Homo sapiens: one gene and its partner. The protein of the gene in region 1 purifies or fractionates together with the protein of each later gene. This does not show direct contact. Each region holds a gene or a part of one and is shown in the gene's direction. Other genes may lie near its edges.

What was found.
Region 2: the proteins of MAP2 (region 1) and DYNC1I2 fractionate together in Homo sapiens (co-fractionation; one large-scale study listed by BioGRID). This does not show direct contact.

What each region holds. Positions count from the first base shown.
Region 1 is NC_000002.12:209,731,144-209,734,756, forward strand, and holds the end of MAP2 (microtubule-associated protein 2), read left to right. Parts: 3' UTR 1-2,969; downstream 2,970-3,613. UniProt on the Homo sapiens protein: The exact function of MAP2 is unknown but MAPs may stabilize the microtubules against depolymerization. They also seem to have a stiffening effect on microtubules.
Region 2 is NC_000002.12:171,728,670-171,732,499, forward strand, and holds part of DYNC1I2 (cytoplasmic dynein 1 intermediate chain 2), read left to right. Parts: intron 1-47; coding exon 48-181; intron 182-1,039; coding exon 1,040-1,184; intron 1,185-3,830. UniProt on the Homo sapiens protein: Acts as one of several non-catalytic accessory components of the cytoplasmic dynein 1 complex that are thought to be involved in linking dynein to cargos and to adapter proteins that regulate dynein function.

The sequences.
Region 1 (3,613 bases):
CCATCTGTTTGATACAGTATTATAGATATAAATATATATATATTTCTCTGTGGCCATTTGTGATACTTCCTCATATACTTGAATATTATACTTCTTTATTCACAGTATCTGTGTCTCCTGCACCCTTTGGTGTTGCAATTTTAGATATGTGAAAGTAGATGTTAGCAGGGTTCTCTCCCTATTTAAAAAAAATACATTAAAAAAGACAAAAAATTTTAGCATGAAGTTGCTTTCTGTAACAACTCAAAGCCGTAACCCTGTTTTAGTGCCAGATACAAGTCTCTCCCGTGATGCTAGACAAAAAATTATTTTTCTTTGCTTTCACCAACATGGAGTTTGTGGGGGTGGGTCCAGTTATACATGAAAGGGTTTACAGATTGTTGGTTTAAGATTATGGATTTATCTCATTTTTAATCACAGGATAGTTTGGGGTTTATTCCTATTATTATTCATGAAACCGACTTAAGATTTTTTCTTTATTTTTCTTTTTTTTTCCATTTGCTAAAGTTGAAAGTTGAAACTAACTATAATAGTTTGAAACATGTTTTCTCATTTTTCCAAATAGTATCTGTTTATTAAATTCTCTAATAGAAGATGTTTGTCTTTCTTACCCAAAGTAAAGATCCCCTGATCAGAAAGAAAAAATACAATACTTTGGGAAGCTATAGCTATAAAACACTTGAGACACAGATATCTAAATCAGTTTTTTTCCAAGACTCCAACATTGCACTCTGTAAAGTAACACACTGTGATCTAGTATTATTTATCAGTAGATAATACTGTTCTGACTGTATATACAGTCTAGAACTCACAAATCAATTAGTTCCTCTCACAAATCATTCATCTTAGACTTACAAATAAGGAATGAAATAGTCAATGGCCTGATTAAGGCAAAGAGCTACCAGGCTAGATGGACACTTTTTAAAAATTTTATCTGTTCTTTTTCTTGCTCAGGGCTGGTAGGTTGGATCTGAACCATTAAAATCAAATGGTCCACTAGGCGTATGATCTCTTTGAGCCAAATCAGTTCCTGAATATAAAGGAGGAAATGATGAGGATGTACTGAGGCAACGGGGAAGTATAGAAACATCCAAGACAAAAGCCAAGGGATGCAAAGGCAGAGACACAGGTGCTTTTTGGTGACCCAGTGGATATGGCAACCAGTGTAACTGCCATACAAGAAACCCTAGGAGCAAACCCACACCACTCATTCTCAGCTAAGAGATTTTACACAGGCAAACGTGTCTTAAACCATCTATAAATCAGTTATTTTATATGACAGTCAAAACCTTAGAAACCTTAGGATCATTATATCTATTTTCTGCCTATTAATTGCTGTGAGGTTTGATTTGACCAATCTGGGCAATTTATTCATCAGCTTCCCTTGAAGTGCACCAGAAAATAGAAGAAAGGTGTGTGGAGACTTAGGGTATTTTATTACATGTTTTCATAGTCTTAAATAGTGATTAAATTTCTCTAGAAAGAAGTTAACAGCTCATTAGAAAAGTTTTAACCTGTGAAATAAGTATTTTTCTCAACATTCTTTAAAGTTTTTATATAAGTTAACACTAGGTAAACATTCTGCATACTAGAAGTCAGTTTATTACAAATACATGTCAAAAATAAAGATTATACAAGGCACCAAACTACTAGATTTGGCATTAAAACAAATGTTTATTTCTAATCACAACAAAATTATAATGAATAAATGTTCTTGCTTTGTATGGAAATACAATTCTTTATTAAAGTTAACAGAAAGGAACTGATCGTTTGTACCAGTAAAAGAGAGAAACACACAGGTTAAATATCTTCTTGTGGGGTTAAGGGGTAGAACCTATCTTGCCTTCACTCTCAAGATAACGACTCAAATTAAGCTTTTTGAGCACCACTCTTGTGGGGACACACATACGCTGATCTAGGAATGAAATCTTCGTGGTCTCAATTCTAGATCTACTATGCCAGTTTCTCTCTGGCTTTAGCCTTTGAGAACCTGTATAAGAATACGTAAGTAATCCAGAGCTGTGAAGAGTTTAAAGGCCAACTTCTCCAGTGAACTCAACCTCTGGGTCACTTGCAACCAGAAATTGGATACCTCATAATGATGCAGGAAAGACCCGAGTTCATGATGAGTTTCAAAGGCCACGTTCATTTAGGAACCAACTCTCTCTGGATTTACCTGCTGAGTTCCAGCAGCGTGATGGGCTGACATCCCACCTACAAGTATGACACCTGTGTAACACCAGCTAGGTACGGCTGGAGAAGGCTGAAGAGAGAATGCCATTAAATGGAAGAATGTACTGATTGTAGTGACCTTCTCCACACACACACACACACACACACACACACACACCTACAGTAATACAGCAAGCGTGGAATAATCAGCCAATATATAACATTCCATCAGTATTTTATTAAGGAAATAACCTGAATGTGGTTGATTTTGACATAGCTGCAATTACAGTTTTCTTCTATTTTTCAAGCCACAATAAGGAAAATAAACTACTCATGGTCTAAATACTAGAGATAAAGTAGATTCATGGCTTGGTAAGGAAATTTTAAGCATTCCTTCAAAGATTGACGTGCTAAAATAAGCATTGATGTTTTGAGTTTTTTTACACCTAGGATTTTTAGCTTGGGTGTGTAGGTGAAGGCCAAGACTCTCTGCAGGAAAAAGCTTATTTTCAAACTCAGAAAATAAAATGTCAATCATAAAAATCTACTTCAACTTTAGCAAAAAGAAAAAAAAATCAACAAAAAGTATACTCTGTATGCTGGGATTCCGAGGTTCCAACACACTGTTACAAATCTGTGGGGGGTTTCTTTCTTCTGATAATTCTAGAGCCTGTTACCATAGAAAGGCATTTCTTCAATGGCTGGTTGTAGTTAGTTCATGTTTTTCAATCAAATTTGCAAATGTATTTGTTGCTGTATAGTGATTGTTTTGCAAAATAAAATTGCTTGTCACCTAACTGCTAGTTTTGGTTTCAGACTGTTTAATTGCTTCTCCTCTGGAAAAAAAATTTTATATATATATATAGTGATATAGTGCGTGTGTGTGTGCATGTGTGTAATACAACCAAAGAAAAATTGTGAAAACAAGGCTATTATTATGGCTGAGTTTCTATTATGTGTCAGGCTCTATACTAAATGATTTTATATTAGCTCAATTAATAAGGAAATTTATTTTTATCACTACTGTATTAGCAGGATGCTATCTTTTGCAAGTGACAAAAATTCTAATTAAACGGGCTTAAACGTAAAGGTGAATTTGTAGGCTCAAGTAACTGACTACTCAGGTGTATCTGCCTCAGGCATGGCTGGGTCCAGGCCCTCAAACGACGTCATCAGGAATCTTCCCTTTTCCAACTTTTAGTTTTGCATCCTCTGTGTTGGCTTCCTTCTCAGGCAGGCACCCCTTCCGTGATGGGCACCAGAAGCTCCAGATTTCACAACCTATCAAAGAAAGCCCCTTTACAGTAGCTCAAATCCAGGGTCTGAAAATCACTGAACGATTAATACTTGGATCTCCTGCCTACTTATGCTAATTGACCAGGATTGGCTCACGTACCCAACTCTGTCACAGGTGGTTGGAGTAGAAGGAGAATAAGGGGAG
Region 2 (3,830 bases), about 38 Mb from region 1:
TAAAATTGCAAGTTTACAAACTAATTTTCTCAGGTTTTTCTATGTAGGATAGCATGGAGTTGGTTCATAAACAGTCAAAAGCAGTAGCTGTGACATCTATGTCCTTCCCTGTTGGAGATGTCAACAACTTTGTTGTTGGGAGTGAAGAAGGTTCTGTGTACACAGCATGCCGCCATGGCAGGTAAACCTAAACTGGAATTTGCAATAATTTAAAATTCCTCCTTTAATCCCATTGAAACAAATTGTCTTATTTAAGTAGAAATCTGTCGTAGATCTACTTGTTATTTGTGACAGATTTTTTGTGTTCAGGCACATAAAATTAAAACTTAATACCTTTTTGTATAAAAGATAATTTTGGATTCATGATGTGTTTAGATTTTGTGGGTTGTGGTTTTGTGTGTGTGCATGTACTCACGTAAGTTAGTGATAGGCAGGAACATTCAGTAGTTACAAATACAATATGCACATGCCAATATTGACCTATAGACTTATAAATGAGATTTTCAGCTGTTTCCCCTTTTGATTTATTTGGACTTTAAGCATTAGTTCATTCTCCTGATAATTGTACAGTAATGTCACATACATATTTTAAACTGAGTAATATTTCTCCTTCCGTTCTGTCTGTTTTGAAATTGTCTAGCTGTACCTTATTGCTTCCTTAAAAAAAAATTGAGTGTCCAGATTTCATCTCAAATATAGATCACCTTCACTTCAAAGCTTTTGTTTTAAAAGTAGCCCAGATTGTCTCTCTTAAATGTAGGGTATCTTTGTTTCTATTACACCACTTCAGATATTGGACTTTTGAGGTCTGTTGTCAACAGCATGATGTTTACAGTTCCAAAGGTACTTATTGCTTTAGTAGAGTTACCAAATGTGGATGGAATAACACTCAACAAAGTTAATTCTGATAAGTTATGAGCACAGAGTTAAGTCTGTCAAAATGAAGTCAAGGCCTGATATATAAACCTATAATAAAATGTGTATGTAATTGGTCTACTTATAGGAGACTTCTCTAACATTTTCACTTTTATGAAATTAGCAAAGCTGGAATCAGTGAGATGTTTGAGGGGCATCAAGGACCAATCACTGGCATCCATTGTCATGCAGCTGTTGGAGCAGTAGACTTCTCACATCTTTTTGTCACTTCATCGTTTGACTGGACAGTAAAGCTTTGGACAACTAAGGTATCTAAAATATAGATGTCTGCTATTTGCTCAGGTTTCTGACACAAGGTGGTGATCTAATACTACATAGGAATGATGAAAACCTTTTAAATCATAATTGTTTGCTAATAGATGAAGCCTGCTAGGAAGTTACACAGAGCATGAGTGAACTACTAGATGTTGTAATTTTTATAAAAATATGCTAACAAGTATGGTAACCCTACGCAGAATCAAGGACCAGTCTTCCCACCACTTCAGTCTTTTCGAGCATGTAACTGTTTACCCTGAACTGCACTGGGAAAAAAGCCCTGAGTATCTCGCATAGCACCTCATACAGTTGTCATTCAGCTCAGCACAAAAGCTATGCATTTGCTCTTTGGAGAGTTTTTAACAGGTTATTCATAACTACAGTGGCTCACAGAGTTGATGGGAAATAGGGAAAAGAGAGAGAGAAACTGATTTACAATAAGTCCTGTATAATATGGCTATATGTAGTAAACTGGAATCCTTAGGAAAGCATTGTGTAAAAGCATGGATGCATATATTTTTTGTTATTCTATGATAAGCAGTTTAAATCATTTATTTTGGTTTTAATAAACTTCAGTATTTTAAAAACCCATTCATGTGATAAAATGATTCTTGATCCTCCAGCAATTCCAGATAAATGTGACATTGTCTTGACCTGTTGAAAGTCTCAAGACAAATCCAAGTAGGCAACATTACCTCCTGTGATAGACTTGTAATTTCATTTAATCTCATTTTATAATTAAAGTGCCTTAACTTTGCTGTCTAGTTTTTCTGCGGTATTAACATTATTGCTGAGAAAATGCATACCCAGCATCTGATTCTATTTAAATTAAATTCTAAGGTGTTTTTTTTTCTGTTTCTATCTGCCTTATCCTAAATATTGACTTTTTAAATAATTCATCATGAGACAAAGTTTAGAGATCTTTGGTTCTTCAGTTTCTGTAAGAAAACCTAATGTAAGAGATGTTCTTCACTATTTTAGTGAACTCCTAGTTATTTATCAAGTGTTGGCCTTAGAAGTCTGGGATGAACTCATTATTCATTCTTGTCCTTTCTTGATGCCTCCTTTCTGTCTGATAATGAAACAGGTTAGAAAACTTTGCCTCTAAAAGCTTGCCTTTTAAAATTGAGCATTTTCAGGTTTGTCATTAGCAGATATAAAAATAGTGTTTACCTGAACTCTAATAAAGGAAACAGATGCTTAACACAGTGTCCAGCAAATAATAGGCACTTACCAATGTTTAGTTTCTCTTTTACCTCTTAATGGGGATCGGACAGAGCCTGAATACATTTAATAAGTCATCTCTTTCCTTTCTTGGATTGTTCTTGAATTTTTATTCTTCTAGTGAAATTTATACAGTGGGAAAAGGTAGAAGAAGATTCTCAAAGCTCACAAGCAAAGAAATGCGTAATCTAGCTAGCACAGGCTGAGCATCCCTAATCTGTAATGCTCCAGAATTCAAAACTCTTTGAGCGCAGGCATGACACTCAAAGGAAACATTCATTGGAGCATGGATTTTTGGATTAGAGATGTATAACCATAAGTATAACACAAATACAGCAGGTCATCAAATAGTGTGTTTTGTCATAAAATTGACAAGAAAAAACATTGGCCGGGCTCAGTGGCTCACTCCTGTAATCCCAGTGCTTTAGGAGGCCGAGGCAGAAGGATTACTTGAGCCCAGGAGTTCAAGACCAGTTTGGGTAACACAAGGAGACCCCATGTTTACAAAAAATTTAAAAATTAGCCATGCATGGTGGTGCGCACCTGTGGTCCTAGCTACTTGGGAGGCTGAGGTGGGAGGATTGCTCAACTGGCATGTCTAAATTGTCCCAGTCTGAATGAGTGTGGGTGTGTCTGAGTGTGCCCTGCGATAGAATAGCATCCTGTCCATGGTGGGTTCTTGTCTTGTGCTCTGACCAGCTGTGACCTTGAACTGGGAAAAGCAAGTTGGAAAATGAATGAATGAATACAAATTGTCGTAAAATAAAAATTTGTAAGATACATAGTAATCATACAAAGGCAAGACAGTTAAAGGATGCAGTATGAAACCGCTCAGTGAGCCTTCCGTCTTTGTCATTGTTTTAGAACTGCCTGGTGATAGGGTGTGCTCCTTACAATTTTCACTTTGCAAAACATTTATTCCTTGATTTAACCCACCACCTCTTCACCAAAAATTGGGTTAATAATTATCTTGTTTTTATGATTCTTTCTCAAATGTGACCGGGCAGGGTGGCTTACGCCTGTAATCTCAGCGCTTTGGGAGTCCAAGGCGGGTGGATCACCTGAGGTCAGGAGTTTGAGACCAGCCCAGCCAACATGGTGAAACCCCGTCTCACTGAAAATACAAAAATGAGCTGGGCATGGTAGCGGGCACCTGTATTCCTAGCTACTCGGGAGGCTGAGGCAGGAGAATCACTTGAACCCAGCAGGAGGTTGCAGCAAGCCGAGATTGTGCCATTGCACTACAGCCTGGGTGACGAGCAAAACTCCACCTGAAAAAGTAATGATAATCTTTCTAAATTGTATGTATAGCTCACATTTTATTTCAGTGCTTAATATTTGAAGTGTTTAGGGTCATTATTTAGAAATTTGATGATGTTTTTATCACCAGATAAATGCCACAGGGATTTAACTCT